2 separate regions of the Homo sapiens genome follow, and region 1 is linked to region 2. Evidence: fine-mapped expression QTL. Tissue or cell type: hypothalamus. Region 2 holds a variant in brackets; the other region holds the start of a gene. All regions are shown on one strand. Distances are from middle to middle.

Region 1 (7,045 bases), 68 kb before region 2:
AACTCTTTGTGCCAATATGACATATACTGATAGCATAATGATTAAGAGCATGGACTAAGAGCCAGATTCCTAGGTTCAAATTCTGATTCTGCTACTTCATGGATTACTTATTTAACCTCTTTTAGCCTTGTTTTTCTCATCTGAACAACAGAAATGATTATAATAACCTATCTCAGGGTATTGGTGTAAAGATTAAATAAATTAATATATATAATTAATGTCTTGAATACAGTTAATCCACCATAAATAATAGTTACTATTATCTTCATTATGCATCATCATTCCCCTGGTTCTCATCATCCTTGCCATCTGTCTTTATACTAATAAATTGGGAAAGCAAAAATGATAGGAGAAGCTATTAGAAAGACAGAAGTGCTTCCGGAAATATTTTTAACAAGTAAGTCACAAATACAAACAAAAATAGATCTATTTCTTTGTTTTCAGTTTTAAAGCATAGAATAACTCAAGCACATCGAATTTGTAGAAAGAATATCAAAATAAATCTAAGAAACTTTGATCTTACTCCCACCTCTACCACTAAATGTTTTGTCTTGAGTAAGTTATTTTACTTCCTTGGACCTAAAAAGTAAAGAGGCTAGATTAACTGTTCAATCTATTTTAAATTTATTTCCAATGTTATATCTATAAACTATACAAGCTTTATATGCTATACAGAAAATTTAAAAATAAAAAGTTGTTCAATACCTGCTGTACTTCGAGCTGAATTTTCATTTAGGCTTCGCTTCATTTCCTTCAATATCAAAATCTATAATTTTCTATTCAGCATTCCAAATTTATAATATGACATTGTCCCACTAGACCTGCAAAGAAAGAAACTTATAACTCGTATTGTCTCAACTATAAAACCCAATCCTCAGCCCAGTGATTACTGAAATTATGGTTGTAAACTACTTTCAAACCTGATCACGTAAACACTTTAGGGAGTCCTTTGCTTTCTAAGAGTTTACACCATAATCCACTTTTCCAACCCTGTTCAAATTAAGTTATGACTAGGGCAACTGTAACCTTGCTTCGTAAACATATGTGCATTTTTTCACACAGTATATGTAATTTATTTCAGAATCCCGCACCCACAAAGAGAATTCTGAACCACACCTACAAAGAGGAAAATGGACCACAGCGTTGGCAAACGTACATGCTTCCAAGGCCAAGGAGGAAACACAGTATTTAGCCACCGGGAACTTCCTCCATGCCCCACTTTAAGGCATTGTGCAGGACATCTGCCTTTGCATCAGTTTGAAATGCCTGGATTATATAATATCAAAGACTAAGTCTTCCTGAGGTCAGGAGTTCAAGACCAGCCTGGCCAACATGGCAAAAGCCCATCTCTACTAAAAATACAAAATTAGCCAGGAGTGGTGGCGGGCGCCTGTAATCCCAGCTACTCGGGAGGCCGAGGCAGGAGAATCGCTTGAGCCCGAGAGGCCGAGGTTGCAGTGAGCTGAGATCGTGCCACTGCACTCCAGCCTGGGCAACAAGACCCAGACTCCATCTCAAAAAAAAAAAAAAAAAAAAAAGACTAAGTCCTCCCTTCATATCTAGAATAATTGTAATGACAAGTTTCCACTCCATTTCCACAACTTCAACAAGTGAAACAAGTTTTTCCTTAGTTTTCTTCTTTTACAATAGAATTTCTCTTGTAATTTTGCACGTTTAGCCCCTTAACACATTTCATCCCCAATCTAATACAACGAACACTTGCCCACTGCAAGAAGAGGCAAGATACAAACCCAAACCAGGTAACTTCTGTTCCAAATTCACAACCCAATGAGACAGACAGACCGACACATACACAACTAAGCAATAATGCAAGTCAGGCCGAGGTGTTAACTTTCAAATATCGTTTGTAAAAATAAAACTTGGGAAACAGGCCGGGTGCAGTGGCTCACGCCTGTAATCCCAGCACTTTGGGAGGCCGAGACGGGCGGATCACGAGATCAGGAGATCAAGACCATCCTGGCTAACAGAGGGAAACCCCGTCTCTACTAAAAAATACAAAAAAATTAGCCGGGCGTGGTGGCAGGCACCTGTGGTCCCAGCTACTCGTGAGGCTGAGGCAGGAGAATGGCATGAACTCGGGAGGCGGAGGTTGCAGTGAGCGGAGATCGTGCCGCTGCACTCCAGCCTGGGCGACAGAGCGAGACTCCGTCTCAAAAAAAAAAGAAAAAAAAACAACTTGGGAAACACGAGGTCAGGTGCTGCCTCTGTTTTGTTTCCACATCTTAGGCTTGAAGCTGGGTAGAAGAGATGGACCCTTTAGAAAATATTCCTGGTGGCCAGGTGCAGTGGCTCATGCCTGTGATCCCAGCACTTCGGGAGGCCAAGGCAAGTGGGTCACCTGAGGTCGGGAGTTCAAGACCAGCCTGACCAACAACGTGAAACCCCGTCTCTACTAAAAATACAAAAATTAGCCGGGCATGGTGGTGCGTGCCTGTAATCCCAGCTACCCTGGAGGCTGAGACAGGAGAATCACTTGAACCCGGGAGGCGGAGGTTGCAGTGAGCCGAGATCACGCCACTGCACTCCAGCCTGGGCGACAGAGCGAGACTCTAGGGAAAAAATGGAGAGAGGGAGGAAGGGAGGGAGGGAAGGGAAGGAAGGAAGGAAGGGAAAGGAAAGGAAAGGAAAATATTCTTGGCGCCATCCTAGGAGCCACAACAGGGATTCTGCCACTTTCTCCACCGGCGCAACTCACATCCTATATTTAGAGGGGCTTACGAGGGCTATTATGTTTCTCAGGATCAAACAAACAGAATAAACAACAACAAAATTTTTAAGTGTAACATTCCACCCGCGGGACCATTGATCCTGAGGGCGGGGACCCTCATTTACCCCCAATCCCAGCTCCCAAATGGACCTAAGTGGCGTTAGTAATGGGGTTGGTGGCATTGGTGTGCAAAAAGTGTGCTCAATCTGCACGCACACACACACACACCACCCACAAAAACCACGGCCTCAAATGGCGGCCTGTTTTGGCTCCTGACCGCGGTGGGAGAGAAGAGGCTCCAGTCCGAGTTGAGACGCTCTTCCAAAGGCCTCTCCTGACCCGCCCACGGAGTGGGGGCAGTTTGGTATCAACGCACAGTCTTTCCCTTCTAGGCCCTCCTGCCAACACGACACACAACTTTCGCCCTCAGTTTCCCTCGCCTCCGTCAACCGTCGTCCAGGCGGCCCCGTCAGCAACCGCCGCCCTTCCCGCCCGCGAAGAAAGCGCGGGAATCAGGCTGTTCGCAGGCGCCGTGGACCGCGCAGGCGCAGTGGCCGCCACCTCGGCGCGATGGCATCTTCGCTGCCTGCCTGGCCGCCCTTGGCCGGGCGCGATGACGTTAACGCTCTTCCTTGGCGTTCTCACACTGTGGACCCAGGGATGGCTCCAGCTCCTTAGAGTTTTGCCCAGAGAGGAAAGGAGACTGTCCTGTGACTGGAGAGACAGAGGCAGATCTCCTGCCCAACCGGCCTCAGCCCCACCATCGTCTAAAAAGTGTGCCCCACTTCCCCTCACCCCCTGGCCCTTAGGGTCCAGACATCCGTTTGTTAGATGCTGGTGGCCACCCAGAGTGTGCCCAGAGATTGACTCGAAGGCCACCCGAGGTGTCTGGCTCAATTTCTGGGTCGGATCAGGGTCAGGGAATCTGAGTCCCCGGGAGGCTGGGGACAGAGCTGAAGCCCAGGTTCAGATGGCGGCCATGGAAGGCGGAGAGCCGTCAGCGAGGCAGCGCCGGGGCTGCGGGAGCTTGCGGGAGGGAAGCGCCCGTGAGCCGCAGAGACGCTCTGCAGGGGAAGCCGCGTGGTGTGCGACCCTGGGCGTTGAGCTCCAGGCTTCCTGGCAAAGAGGACTGTGGATTCCTGGCCCTGTGACCTTGGGCAAGTTACTTACTGAACACCCTCTGGACCTACCAGTAAAAGAACAATAACAACAATCGCCCTAAAAATACTAGAAGATGAAATAGACAATCCTGGCACACAGTAAATGCCCAGTAACTGTTAGCCCTTATTTAATTTGAGTAACAGTAGCTGCCATTTATCCGGAACTTACTATGGGCCAGGTAGTGGATTCTAGAGCTGTCTGAGTTCAAAGCCCATGTTTTGTTGTTACCGTATCTTCTAACCATTTGAAGACTGGGATAGGGAAGGGCTTAGAGATGAAAGGAAGATTGTTAGTAAAGGCCTAGGCCTATAAGACCACAGACATTTTAGTAGTTGCTTTAAAACTATCTCAAGTAAAGAAGAGTGTTAGAAAATAATATTAGATGTAGACTGAGACCAGATAATAGCAGACCTTGAATGCCAGAGTAAGGAACAGCTTTCAAGGAATAGGGCCATCTTTTATTTTGGGAAGAAGAAGACTTGAACAATAAAAATAAAACTTGTTATTTATCATGGTTCCAGAGAGGAGTTACCCAAAACATGAATAGAAGCTTCAGGGAAGCAGATTTTGACTTGATATCTACATACGGATGTGCATACATTTACAACACACACCCACCCACCCCAAAAATAGATTTTTCATTAAAAAAAAAAAAAAAAAACCACCTTAAGCCGATTACTTCTGTAGGGACTGCAGACATGAGCAATATAGAATATTTGCTAGCAGTTTATAAACTTAATCTGTTTTATACTTGTCTTTTTCTGCTTATTTATTTCCACCTGGAAAGTTGGTCAGGATGGATCACAGGGAAGGAGAAAACTAAAGTAGTAAAAGTAGTTTGATTACATAACTACTGAACATCACATTATGTATGAGACATCTTATGTATAATATTTAACAAAAAACCCTTCTTATCCCCCAGTCATACCATTTGGGAAACAACCCACCTTAAATTTGTCTCCTACAAAATTTCTGGCAGGGATCTACTGGACAGCCATGACTGTGAAGTAAAACTCTGCTCTCCTTTTGTTTTGTTTTGTTTTGTTTTTGAGACGGAGTTTCGCTCTTGTTCCCCAGGTTGGAGTGCAATGGCACAATCTCAGCTCACTGCAACCTCCGCCTTCTAGGTTCAAGTGATTCTCCTGCCTCAGCCTCCTGAGTAACTAGGATTACAGGCACCCGCCACCACGCCCAGGTAATTTTGTATTTTTAGTAGAGACGGGGTTTCACCATGTTGGCCAGGATGGTCTCGAACTCCTGACCTTAGGTGATCCGCCCACCTCGGCCTCCCAAAGTGCTGGGATTACAAGCATGAGACCACACCTGGCATCCTTTTGTTTTAAACTACATTATTTTATTAATACATCAGGCAACTCTATCCCACAAAACATTTGTAATGCTGGAAGTTATGCTTACTCTTTTAAGTACTTCAGAATATTATATATTCAACTTAATAATGAGATAGTGACAATTCGAAAGGGTTTCACTTCGTATACTATCAGTTCGCTGAGAACTAATAAAAAAGTGTGGTTTTTTGGGTCATCCCAAAAATCAAGTACACTTTGGGAAACAGGGAGTTAAAAATCTTTCGGAAGTTAACTTGGTATAAGAGTATGAAAAGCCTCTGTTGCTCTACTTCTGAGGAAATGCTCTCCTTTTTCCTAATAAAGCTTTCCACAGAAGACAAACTCTGTACACAAAAAACAAGGTAAGTATGGGAAATAATTGCTGCAATTCATTAACTCTCAAAAAAGTTATTCATTTTGACATGTAAGAGAAACTTTATTTATGAATGTGAAATGTGCTTCAAAGTGCTGATCTGTTAAAATTCCATAAAACAAGCTTCAAAATGCAAGTCATTTGTGCCAGCTACGAGTAAATAACTGAAGCAGCATTTCCAGAGAGACTAGGGCAAAGGACAGAACAAACTACAAATCAGCAGAAAAGAAACCAAGCATAGTAGAGTGTTAATAATTCACCATGGTTACTGCTCTTAAAACCAAAGCAACTAAACAACTGTCATCTGTTTACTTTTACGTGTGTTTTCATCATCTCTACACCGTCTGAAGTGTTCAGTGTACATGGATGTGGACAGACAGTCAAAGCCTACAGGAGCTTTTTTTTTCTATTAGAACAGTCATTTTAATGCATAGATTTGATGTGGTTATTTTGCTTTCTCTATCTCTGCATTATAAGCTCTTAAAGGAAGAACATTCAGTGGGTTTATTAAATATTAGGAAGCATTCATATTTTATTTTTCCACCATGTATTTGGTTTGTATGCATGTTTGTTTCCTGAGCACACTGTAATGGCTGTTTATGTGAATTCTGAAAGAGCAAAACTAGAACTGTGAAGAAGACCAAAAATAACAGAGAGGCACCCTATTGTCCTGTGAAAAACACTAGACTTGGGATGAGAAACATGGGTCTCAGGCCTAGGTTCTCCTACATCCCTGCAGAACCTTAACTGAGTTACTTAACCTCTCTTTCGTTTACCCCTGCAGTGGGGATGTCAACACCTAACCCACCCTATCGTATAAAATTAATGTATGAATAAACTGAGTGAAAGGACATTATAAATTAAACTCTGCAATTGTAATAAATTACTCTTATTGTACCCTCTATCAAACAACCTGGCGTTACTAGTACATGGTATTCCCAGTACTTGAACATATGTGACTTTCTGGGTGACTGAGCATGAAATCAAATCAGATTTGGCTCAGAGTCATTTCTCCAAAGGGATGTAATCATCTTAGTATTCTGGAAAATTTCCCCTAATAAGACCCCTTTTTGAGTAACACAGTCCAGTGGAGAGTCCCCGCTGACAGTGAATAAGGCTGTGTCTATGTAAGTTCACATGATGTGGTTAGCACATGCAGTGTGTCCCAAGACATTTTCAGGCATCACAAAAACTTGAAAAGTACTAACAGTTGTCTTTCCTTTGGTATTTAGGCAAAAAATGAGGAAGATTCATAAGTAAGTTAACACAGAATTACCAAAAACCTCATGAGAAAGAAATGAAGGGATGTTTCAGGGTAGCTTTTCGAGTCCCAAGTGATCATTGATTTGGCCCTTCTGTTTCTGATTGTGAAAAAGCATTCTGAAAGAATGGGCGCCGGTTCAAGAGGAGGTCTCTGAGGGTCAGCCTTTGGCTGTT
Region 2 (10,683 bases):
CCCTGTCTGCAGTCCTGAGATGCACTGGGCCCTGGCACAGAGGTCAGAGCTGGAGGCCAGGACACCTAAGTCAATGCCCTGCTACCCTGGGGCAAGTCCTTTCCCTTCACAGAGCCATCTCCTCGCCTGTAAAATGGGGCTGCCTCCTCAGCCTCCCTCCCAGGTCTCTGTTCCCTCAGAGAGCTACCCAGGACAATGCTTCTAAGACCACCAGGTGACACCACCGGAACATGGACTCCTCCCCCAACACCTCCTCCCAGCCCCTCCTTCTCTGGTCCACCCTGGTGTCCTGCTCAGATGGACATGCCCAGCCTCCTCCCCTCCTGCCCCTCTGGGGCACCAGAGCTTCTTAAGGCAGGGACAGTGTGGGTGGAGCTCAAAGCGGGGTGGCCCCTCCCTTCCTCCCTCCTTCCTTCCTTTCTCTCCCTCCGCCCTCCTTCCTCCTCCCTTCCTCCCTCTCCCTCCTCCTTCTCCCTTCTGTCTCCTGCCTCCCTCCTCCCTCCCTCCCCCTCCTTACTCCTCCTCCCTCTCCCTCCTCCCTCCTCCCTTCCTCCCTCCTTCCTGCTTCCCTCTTCCTTTCTCCCTCCTCCCTTCCTTCCTCTCCCTCCTCCCTTCCTTCCTCCCTCATCCTTCCTGCTTCCTTCCTCCCTCCTCCCTCTCCCTCCTCTCTCCTTCCTGTTTCCCCCTCCCTTCCTCCCTCTCCCTCCTCACTTCCTTCCTCCTTCCCTCTTTCTTCCCCCCTCCTCCCTTCTTCCCTCCTTCCCCTTCCCTCCCTTCCTCTCCCGTCTCCCTCCTCCCTCCTCCCAGACTCCGCACCGGGCGGGGGCGGCACCCACCGAAGTAGAAGCCTTCGTGTTGGTACTTGGGGTTGAAGAAGGCCCCCTTGGCGTGCGCGTTGACGTCGGCGCCGGCGGCGATGAGCAGGGCTGCGATGTCCCCCTGCCGCCGCTCGATGGCGATGTTCAGCGCCGTCTGCCCTGCGGAGCGGGCGGGGACGCGCGGGAGCCTCAGCGCCGGGCACAGGGGCCTCTTGCCCACCCGCTCTGGCCTCCATACCCTCCCCGAACCCACGGGGAGATCAGAACCCTGGTCTGTGTCGCCAGCTACCAGGAATCCCAGCTTTGTTCTTTGCTTCCTTCATGCCTGCGCGGACCCAAGAAATGTTTGTGGAGCGCCTGCTCCGGGCTCCGGCCCCAGGCGCTGGGGGTCAGTGGGTGCCCAAGACGCAATCTCGATTATTTTCCTCAAGAAGCCCGCAGTGTCACTGAGAACGAGGTGCTACGATTCAGAGGGGTGCAGGAGCTGCGGTACCCAGAGCAAGGGCCCTTCACAGCCAGAGAGCGTCAGGGGGCTTCCCAGAGCTCTCTAACCTGGGACCTCAGAAGTTTAGCGAGGCGGTGTGGGGCCAGCTCATCAGCCAGGGCAAGAGGGCAGAGCTTGTGCTAAGGGCCAGAGTCACAGACGGCCTTGAATTAGGAAACTGGCAGGACGAGAATGTAGGGCTCGGTGCATGGGTGTTTTCAGACCTCTCTGGCTGCAAAAGTGGAGGATGCGTTAGAAGCAGCCGAGACCAGTGAAGGAAATGATGAGGCCTGTAATCCCAGCACACTGGGAGGCCAAAGCAGGTGGATCACCTGAGGTCAGGAGTTCGAGAGCAGCCTGACCAACATGGTGAAACATGGTCTGTACTAAAAATACAAAATTAGCCGGCCGTGGGGGCGCATGCCTGTAATCCCAGCTACTTGGGAGGCTGAGGCAGGAGAATCGCTTGAACCCAGGAGGCAGAGGTTGCAGTGAGCCGAGATTGGTCCATTGCACTCCAGCCTGGGCAAGAAGAGTGAAACTCCATCTCAAAAAACAAACAAACAAACAAAAAAATGATGAGGCCTGGACTAAGGGGAGTTGGAGGGCACATGAAGGGTGGAGAAAGGAGGAAGCCCAAAGACCCTCTGGAGAAAGAGCCTTCAGGATGCCCGGCTGGGAAGAAGGGTGTCTCAGGTAAGATCTAGGTATTCAGCCCTGGCGGTGGGTGAATGATACGCTGGTGACACAGCAAGAGGAAAGAAGGGTAGCGGGAGAGACACTAAGCCTGCTGGAGACCAGAGAACTTCCAGATGGAAGGGACCAGAAGGCTGGAGTGGGGGAAGGGTCTCGAAATGCACCAACAGAAACAGCAGTTTCCAAAGAGCTGCCGCTGTGTCATAAACAAACATAGTCTTGGTGGATTAAAGAACCAAGCTTTAAGACACATTAGAAAGTTTGTTTATAGCTAACCTTTTGGTAGGGAAGACCTTCTTAAGCAGGATCCAAAAGGCAGAAACCATAAAGAAAAGGCTGACATATTTGCTTACATAAAGGTTTTTGGTTTTGGGGGTTTTTGGTTTTTTGTTTGTTTGTTTGTATGTTTGACATAGGATCTTGCTGTGTCACCCAGGCTGGAGTGCAGTGGCGTGAGCATAGCTCACTGCAACCTTGAACTCCTGGGCTCAAACGATCCTCCTGTCTCAGCCCCCCAAAAGCTAGACTTTCATATTTGGCATAAGAAATGCTCTAAGACATACAGTTAATCAAACAAAGCAACTTGTAGAATACAGACGTGATGGTCCTATTTTATGTTAGATAAGTAAATAAAACTATTTCTGTGTACATATATACACACACACGTGTGGACTACAGGCCTGCACCACCACTCCCGGCTTATTTTTAAAATTTTTTGTAGAGACAGGATCTTGCTGTGTTGCCCAGGCTGGTCTTGAATTCCTGGGCTCAAGCAATCCCCCTACCTCGGAGATTTCTGTATTTCCGAATGCATCCTAATGAAAGTTAAAGACAAGTGATAGGCTGGGGAAAATATTTGAGATATATAAAAAGGCAATGTGTTTTAGGGCCGGGCGCGGTAGCTCACACCTGTAATCCCAGCACTTTGGGAAGCCGAGGCGGGTGGATCACTTGAGGTCAGGAGTTCGAGACCAGCCTGGCCCACATGGAGAAACCCCATCTCTACTGAAAATACAAAAAAATTAGCCAAGTGTGGTGGCGGGCACCTGTAGTCCCAGCTACTCAGGAGGTTGAAGCAGGAGAATCACTTGAACTCAGGAGGCAGAGATCGCGCCACTGTACTCCAGCCTGGGCTAGAGAGCAAGACTCTGTCTTTTTAAAAAAAAAAAAAAAAAAAAGGCATGCCAGGCACGGTGGCTCACACCTGTAATCCCAGCACTTTGGGAGGCTGAGGCGGGCAGATCACGAGGTCAGGAGATCGAGACCATCCTGGCTAACCTGGTGAAACTCTGTCTCTACTAAAAATACAAAAAATTAGGCGGGCGTGATGGTGAGTGCCTGTAGTCCCAGCTACTCGGGAGGCTGAGGCAGGAGAATGGTGTGAACCCGGGAGGTGGAGCTTGCAGTGAGCATGCCACTGCACTCCAGCCTGGGCAATAGAGCAAGACCCCGTCTCAAAAAAAAAATAGAAAGGCATTGTGTTTTTAAAAGTCTATAATATATTACAAGCGCCTATGAATCAATAGAAAGACAAACAGTCTAAAAGAAAACTGAGAAAAGATTATAAACAAGCACCTCACAGAGGAGAAAATACACACAGTGAATAAACAAAGTGAAAGATGTTTGGAATCACTGGTGGTCAGGAAAATGAAAATTAGAACCTAAAGAGTTAACCCTTTTCACCCACCAGACTGGAAAAGAACAAAAAAAAAAAAAAAAGGATAATTTGCAGTGTTAGTGATAAGTAGGAGAATGAGTATTTCTGTACACCGTTGTGGGGAGAGAGTAAATGAGTATCTTTTAGAGACAAATTTGGCAATAACTATTATAACTTTATTTTATTTATTTAAAAAAAAATTTTTTTTTTTGAGATGGAGTCTCCCTCTGTTGCCCAGGCTGGAGTGCAGTGGCGCGATCTCGGCTCACTGCAACCTCCGCCTCCCAGGTTCAAGTGATCCTCCTGCCCCAGCCTCCCAAGTAGCTGGGATTACAAGCGTGCCCCACCACGCCCTACTAGTTTTTGTATTTTTAGTAGAGATGGGTTTTCACCATGTTGGCTAGGCTGGTCTGGAACTCCTGACCTCAAGTGATCCACCTGCCTTGGCCTCCCAAAGTGCTGGGATTACAGGCATGAGCCACTGCGCCTGGCCACTATTATAACTTTAAATATGCATGCGGTTGAACCCAGATATTCCAATTCAAAATATTTTCTGAAACATATGTGCACCTGTGCACAGGGTCATAGACAAGATCGTGCACTGTGACATTGTCACAACACAGCTGGAAACACCTGACTGTCTGTCAGTGGGGGAGTGGTGAAATTAGCCAAGGTGCAGCCGCAATTGCAGACGAATCTGGTGAAAAGAAGCTAGACTTTCATATTTTGGCATAAGAAGTGCTCCAAGACATATGGTTAATAGTTAATCAAAAAAACCAACTTGTAGAATACAGACAGTATGATAATATTTTATGTTAAATAAATAAAACTTTTTCTGTGTGCACATATACACACACAAATGTCAAAGGCCTAGAAAACTCCACAAAGTATATGGGTAAAGGACTTAAAAAAAAAAAAAGTATGTAAAATGCTGGGCTGCTTTACAATGAAACTCTATTCATGTGACGTGGATGTTGTTAGGCTGGGTGCGGTGGCTCACGCCTATAATCCCATCATTGAGAGGCAGAGGCGGGAGGATTGCTTGAGCCCCGGAGTTACAGACCAGCCTGGGCAACATGGTGAAACCCTATCCCTGCAACAAA[T/C]AGAAAAATTAGCTGGGCGGGGTGGCACGCATCTATAGTCCCAGCTACTCGGGAGGCTGAGGTGGGAAAATTACCTGAGCCCAGGGAGGTCAAGGCTGCAGCGAGTCGTGGTCGCGCCACTGCACTCCAGCCTGCCCAACAGAGTGAGAACCTGTCTCAAAAACAATAATAAAATAAAATAAAGTAAAATAATAAAAAGAAACTGTTATATTGAATCTGATGATGGATGTGTAGAGGTTTATTATTCTAATATCTTAACTTCATGTTTAAAATTTTTATAATAAAAATGTCTTAATTGAAGAATTGCTTAAAAAAGTAAAACTCTGAAGGCCTCTGATAAAATGCTTTAAAATGATATGAATAAAGTTGTGATTGGTTCCTCTTAGCAGCATAGGGAGGAAATATTCGCCCTTGCCCAGTGGGGAAACTGAGGCTCAGAGAGGTGAGGCAGTTGCCTGTAGTCCCAGCTACTTGGGATGCTGAGGCAGGAGAATCACCTGAACCCGGGAGGCAGAGGTTGTGCCACTGCACTCCAGCCTGGTGACACAGCGGAACTCCATCTCAAAAAATAAATAAATAAATAAATAAATAAATAAATAAACAAAGTCATTGCTCTAAATAAGGTTATTTTAGATACAAAAAAATGCTATGAAAATAAATGAAGATAGGGTGACAGAAAGTGACTGGGGAAGGGAAACTTTAGAGTGGACAATCAGAGTGGTCACCTTGGGTCCTGCCCAGAGTGTGGAAGAATGCTACTCTGCTGGTCCTGGAGCCCCTCTGCTCCGGGTGGAGGAAATGCTAAGAGGAAGGAAGGCACCAGCGGATGGGTCAGAACGGTGGTGGGGTTGGTTTCCAGGAAGACAAGAATAAATAGCTCCTCCCACCATTCAGAGAAAGAGGAGGTGCCCACAGCCTCCCAGACCTCCTCGCCCCAGCAAGAGGCAGATTCATGAAAGGAGAGGGAAAGGGGAGGCTAAGAACAGGGAGAGGTAAGGATCTGTGACCGGGACAGCAAAGTCTTCACAGAAACACTAACAACCTTCTTTCATTCACTCATCCAAAAAATATGTACTAAGCGTCTCTTAGGTGAGACCCTAAGGGTACTGGGAAATGAACTGTAAGCAACAGACTTCATCCCTGCCCTCAAGGGAAACATGTTGCTAGCAAAGGGTAGTTCGTAAGTCCTACAATACTGACAAGAAGAAAGGAGGATACAAAGGGGACTGAAAAGGGAAAATTAGGACAAGCAAGCTTGAGGCACTGGCCTGAACCTCCCTGTCTGCAGGACTACTGTCAACTCCTTAGAGACAGGCTGAGAATGTGATATGGTTCATCCAGTTTCTCTCTTTGCATTGGCTACCAGGGAGCTCAGTGAGCAGTTTAGCACTCAGTTGCAACAGTCTTCCCTAGGTTTCCTCTCCTCCACTCCATATCTTCTAGTTTGTCACAATCCTTGACTTCTTCTTATATATAACAAAAATGCTTTTGAAAGTCTGCAGAGTTCAAATAATAAATCACAATTACTTTCTCCCATGAGAAGGGTTAAAGGCCAAAGCTAAACTCCCACCTGGAAAAACCTAAATTGTGGCAGGGCGTGGTGGCTCACGCCTGGAATCCCAGCACTTTGGGAGGTGAAGGCAGGTGGATCACCTGAGGTTGGGAGTTTGAGACCAGCCTGGCCAAAATGGTGAAACCCCGTCTCTACTAAAAATCCAAAAAAATTAGCCAGGCATGGTGGCAGGTGCCTGTAATCCCAGTTACTTGGGAGGCTGAGGCAGGAGAATCGCTTGAACCTGGGAGGCAGAGGTTGCAGTGAGCCAAGATCGCGCCACTGCACTCCAGCCTAGGCAACAGAGCGAGACTCCATGTCAAAAAACAAAAACAAAAAAGCTCAAACATCTAGTGCCCCCAGCATATCAGCAAGACGGCATCCAATTATAATTGAGTCAATCGCTTTTGCCACGAGCACCTCATAAGACCGTAAAGCGCTGTTGACTGACTCCAAAACTCAAATAAAGACACATCTTACTGATTTTCCCCTGTGGATTTCCTGGGAGGGAGCCACTCTCCCAAATTTGCTCTCCCAGCATCCTCTCTGGCCCACTTACAAAGAAATCCACAAAACTGAGACCCAAATGGGGACAGTTAATGATGATGATGATGATGACAACAGTCGACTTTTGGTGGCCCCTGCCCGGCTCTCTTGCCTCACTTCCAGCCTTCTTTTCATTGCTCAACCATGCCAAGCTCAATCCCATCTTGGGGCTTTCGCCCTGATCCTTCTCATCATGTCGGCCTCAGGCCAAAGATGACCACTCTGACTGTCCACTCTAAAGTTGCCCTCCCCCAGTCACTTTCTGTCACACTATCTTCATTTATTTTCGTAATATTTTAAATCTAAAATTATCTTATTTAGAGCAGTGACTTTCTTTCTTTTCTTTGTTTCTTTTTCTTTCTGTCTTTACTTATTTATTTATTTTGAGATGGAGTCCCGCTCTGTCACTAGGCTGGAGTGCAATGGCGATCTCGGCTCACTGCAACCTCCGCCTCCTGGGTTCAGGTGATTCTCCTGCCTCAGCCTCCCAAGTAGCTGGGATTACAGGCACCTGCCACCATGCCCGGCTGATTTTTGTATTTTTAGTAGAGACGGGGTTTCACCATGTTGGTCAGGCTGGTCTTGAACTCCGGACCTCAGGTGATCCACCCGCCTCAGCCTCCCAAAGTGCTGGGATTCCAGGCGTGAGCCACCACGCCCGGCCTTAGAGCAGTGGCTTTAACCTGTCTTGTTCACCAGTGCATGCCCATGCCAAAAACAATGCCTGGCATGGAACCAGTGCTCAAAATTATTTGCAGAATGAAGGAAGAAAGAGAGGGTTGCCTGAAGCATCCCTGGTACCATGCTACATGCTTGGGGCTCCTCAATGGCAGCAGTGCCTCCACGTGGCCTGGCCAGCAGTGGCCCTGTGGCCCCATACCCCACCCTCAGAGACTCCTGTCTGCACAGCCCCTCTGCAGGCAGGATACCTTCATAGGCCTCCTCTGTGTACTCGGCGTTGATGAACCTGCCCAGGATGTCGTTCTCTTCAGCAAAGGCAAGCAGGATCCGCACTATCTCCTTGGTGTTGGGGTTGATGTTTAACAAGGCCTTCATCAGGCAGGTCTTCCCCGTGTCGGAGGCCGTCAGCTTGTGCATGAGGAAGTCTGCAGGCAGGGCCATGGGTGGAGTTACAGGAGGGCCCCGGCTGCCCTTGGCCCTCCCAGCCCAGAGGGTGTGGTTGCTGCAGCCGCAGACCCCAAGCCCCTGCTCCACATCTCCACTCCCAGACCTTACACTTGGCCGCTCTCCTCCCTCTCCAGCTGTTTCTCCTCCGTCTCCTATGCTGGCTCCTTGCTCTCTGTGGCCCATGGGTGACGTATCTGAGGCCTTTTGCTCTTTGCCCACTGTATGGCTTCCCGCTGTCCACCCCCCTGCTGCCACCCTGGAATCTGTCTCCAGCCTGCCCCCTCCTCGTGGCCTGCAAATAAAGCTCATGGCCTCCCCATCAACCTGATACTGCACTGGTCCCCGAGACACCCAGGGCTCCACCAGCCACCAAGCTACCCAAGTCTAAATGGCACCATGCTGGACCCCCCGTCCCTCACTCCCCAGGTCCTCAAATCCTGCCAATGCTACTGGCCGAGGAGCTGCTCAGAACCGTTCCCTTCTCAAGCCCTGCTTCAGGGTCCCAGCCCTGCCTGAACAGTGGCCTTCTCCAGCTTCACCCCCATCTTCCACACAGTAGTCAGACCCGACTCTCACCTGCCCAAACCCTTCTGTGGTTCCCCATTCTCCTCGGAGTCAAGTTCAAAGTCCCTAGCCAGAATTCAAGGCCCCTCACACTCCAGCCTCATGGGTTGGTGAGGGGAGGGGAAAATGGGCACCAGAAGCCAAGCAGGGCCCCCAGCCCTGCACCCTCTGCCAGGCTCAGACACTCACCAGGCACATCCTCATCATGGCGCCGCCTGCAAAGCTCCTGCAGCTCCACCAGCAACTCTACCAACTCCTCCACGCAGCCCTCAGACACGGCTGCAAAGATGCGCTTCTTCAGCCGCCTCTTTTTCCTCCTCTGCTCTTCCTTGGCCAGCTGTGCACTGAAGCCAGAAAATGTTTCCAACTCAACACACACATCCTCTCAAGCTCAATCTCTCCTTTTCCCCGCCAGAGCTGCCTACGGGGCGCTGCAGCTGCCGCCAACATCTCCCATGCCTGTCACAATGCCTGCAAACTCCTGGGCTCTGTGTGGACCCATCAGGCTCCCCTTGTAATCCATATGCAATCACATTTTGTCAAAATACCTACATTTGGATGCATGAAGTAATGATCAGGAAGGATCTATGCCTATTAAAGACATTACCTTGAAAATATAAGATTTCATATTTTATGTTGTTTGAACTTTTAAAATCTATCCTTCCCTGTCCTCCCACTCCAGATAAGCAACCATGGTAACGCGTTGATGTCTCCTTTTGTTTCTTTTTTCTTTTTTTTATTTGAGACAGAGTCTTGCTCTGTCACCCAGGCTGGAGTACAGTGACACAATCTCAGCTCACTACAACCTCCACCTCCAGGGTGCAAGCAATTCTCCTGCCTCAGCCTCCTCAGTAGCTGGGATTACAGGCATGCGCCACCACGCCCGGCTAAGTTTTGTATTTTTAGTAGAGACGGGGTTTCACCATGTTGGTCAGGCTTGTCTTGAACTCCTGACCTCGTGATCCTCCTGCCGCAGCCTCCCAAAGTGCTGGGATGACAGGTATGAGCCCTGCACCTGGCTATGTATTTTTAGTTCACATAAATGGTGTCGTGCTACAGTTCTTTTTCCACTGCATCCTGCTGTTTGAATGTTTCATAACAAATGGGTTTTATAGAATTCAATACTCCACTCCTTCCCCGTAAACGTCCTACATGCCATGGACCCATGACTCCACTTGTCCCAATCCCCAGGAATGGTGGATTCTTTCTCCTTCCTGCAGGGCCCCGGATCCTGTCTCTCTGGCACCCCCAGCCTGGGTGGGCACAGTGGGTGGAGGGGGAGGGGCAGACTTACCTGGGGCTGTTGGGATTGGATGGGGTCTCTGTCACATCATCCTGAGGAGACTGGGGGGAGTCCATGTCATCACAGTTACCAGAGATGCTGGAGGTGTTGGCAGGGGGAACAGAGAGGGTTTTAAAGTTTTAAAATGGGCCGGGTGAGGTGGCTCATGCATGTAATCCCAGCACTTTGGGAGGCCGAGGCAGGTGGATCACTTGAGGTCAGGAGTTCGAGACCAGCCTGGCCAACATGGTGAAACTAAACTGTCTCTACTAAATTGTCTCTACTAAAAATACAACAACTAGCCAGGCGTGGTGGCATGTGCCTGTAATCCCAGCTACTTGGGAGGCTGAGGCAGGAGAATCGCTTAAACCTGGGAGGTGGAGGCTGCAGTGAGCTGAGATTGGGCCACTGCACTCCAGCCTGGGCAACAGAGCGACATTCCATCTCAAAAAGATAAATAATAATAATAAAGTTTTATAATAGACAGTGGTAGCATGCCACAGCCAGGCCTGGCCCCGTGACCCAGGGCAAGTCACTGGCCACATGCTGGAGCTGAGGGCTGGGCCCAGGGCAAGGGGTTGGGCTGGGGCCCGTACTCACCACTGCCGGATGTTGGAATCCATGGGCTTGGAGAAGACAGGAGGAGAGGTCTTGGCAACTGTGGGGTTGGGTTCAAACCCTTCTATCTCCAGGAAGAAGTGTGCACTGAGGGAACACGGAGGAAGCCTGTTAGGGCCGAGCCAGGCAGAGCCTGTCTGCCTGTGTCCTGCCTCCTGGCCCCAGAGGGTGCCCCCATGCTGAGCACACACCCTGGCCAGCTCTGAGCCCAAATGGCCTTGCCCAGCCCTCCCGG

Which allele goes with the higher level. Alleles are on the strand shown, and positions count from the first base shown. SD is a standard deviation of normalised expression in the study named.
With allele C in place of T in region 2, the expression in hypothalamus of the gene that starts at base 3,242 in region 1 is higher (moderate effect, 0.58 SD a copy in GTEx).

Evidence for each region. PIP is the estimated chance that this variant, and not a neighbour inherited with it, causes the effect. A credible set is the group of variants that fine-mapping cannot tell apart.
Region 1: it holds the start of SPATA22, and the variant in region 2 is the best candidate, but not a certain one, in a credible set for the expression of SPATA22 in hypothalamus (GTEx, PIP 0.68).

What each region holds. Positions count from the first base shown.
Region 1 is chr17:3,468,578-3,475,622 of GRCh38, forward strand. It overlaps SPATA22 (spermatogenesis associated 22), which reads right to left and starts at 3,242. Exons shown (of 9, transcript NM_001170698.2): 1 at 3,105-3,242; 2 at 706-821. The coding sequence starts at 748. It also overlaps a transcript of ASPA not described here.
Region 2 is chr17:3,534,737-3,545,419 of GRCh38, forward strand. It overlaps TRPV3 (transient receptor potential cation channel subfamily V member 3), which reads right to left. Exons shown (of 18, transcript NM_145068.4): 3 at 10,431-10,535; 4 at 9,843-9,929; 5 at 8,738-8,892; 6 at 7,786-7,962; 7 at 837-977. Among named protein-coding and RNA genes, the nearest start is that of TRPV3, 18 kb to the right of the region's middle. RefSeq lists a silencer at 1,013-1,062. The variant T/C (reference allele first, on the strand shown) is at 4,759.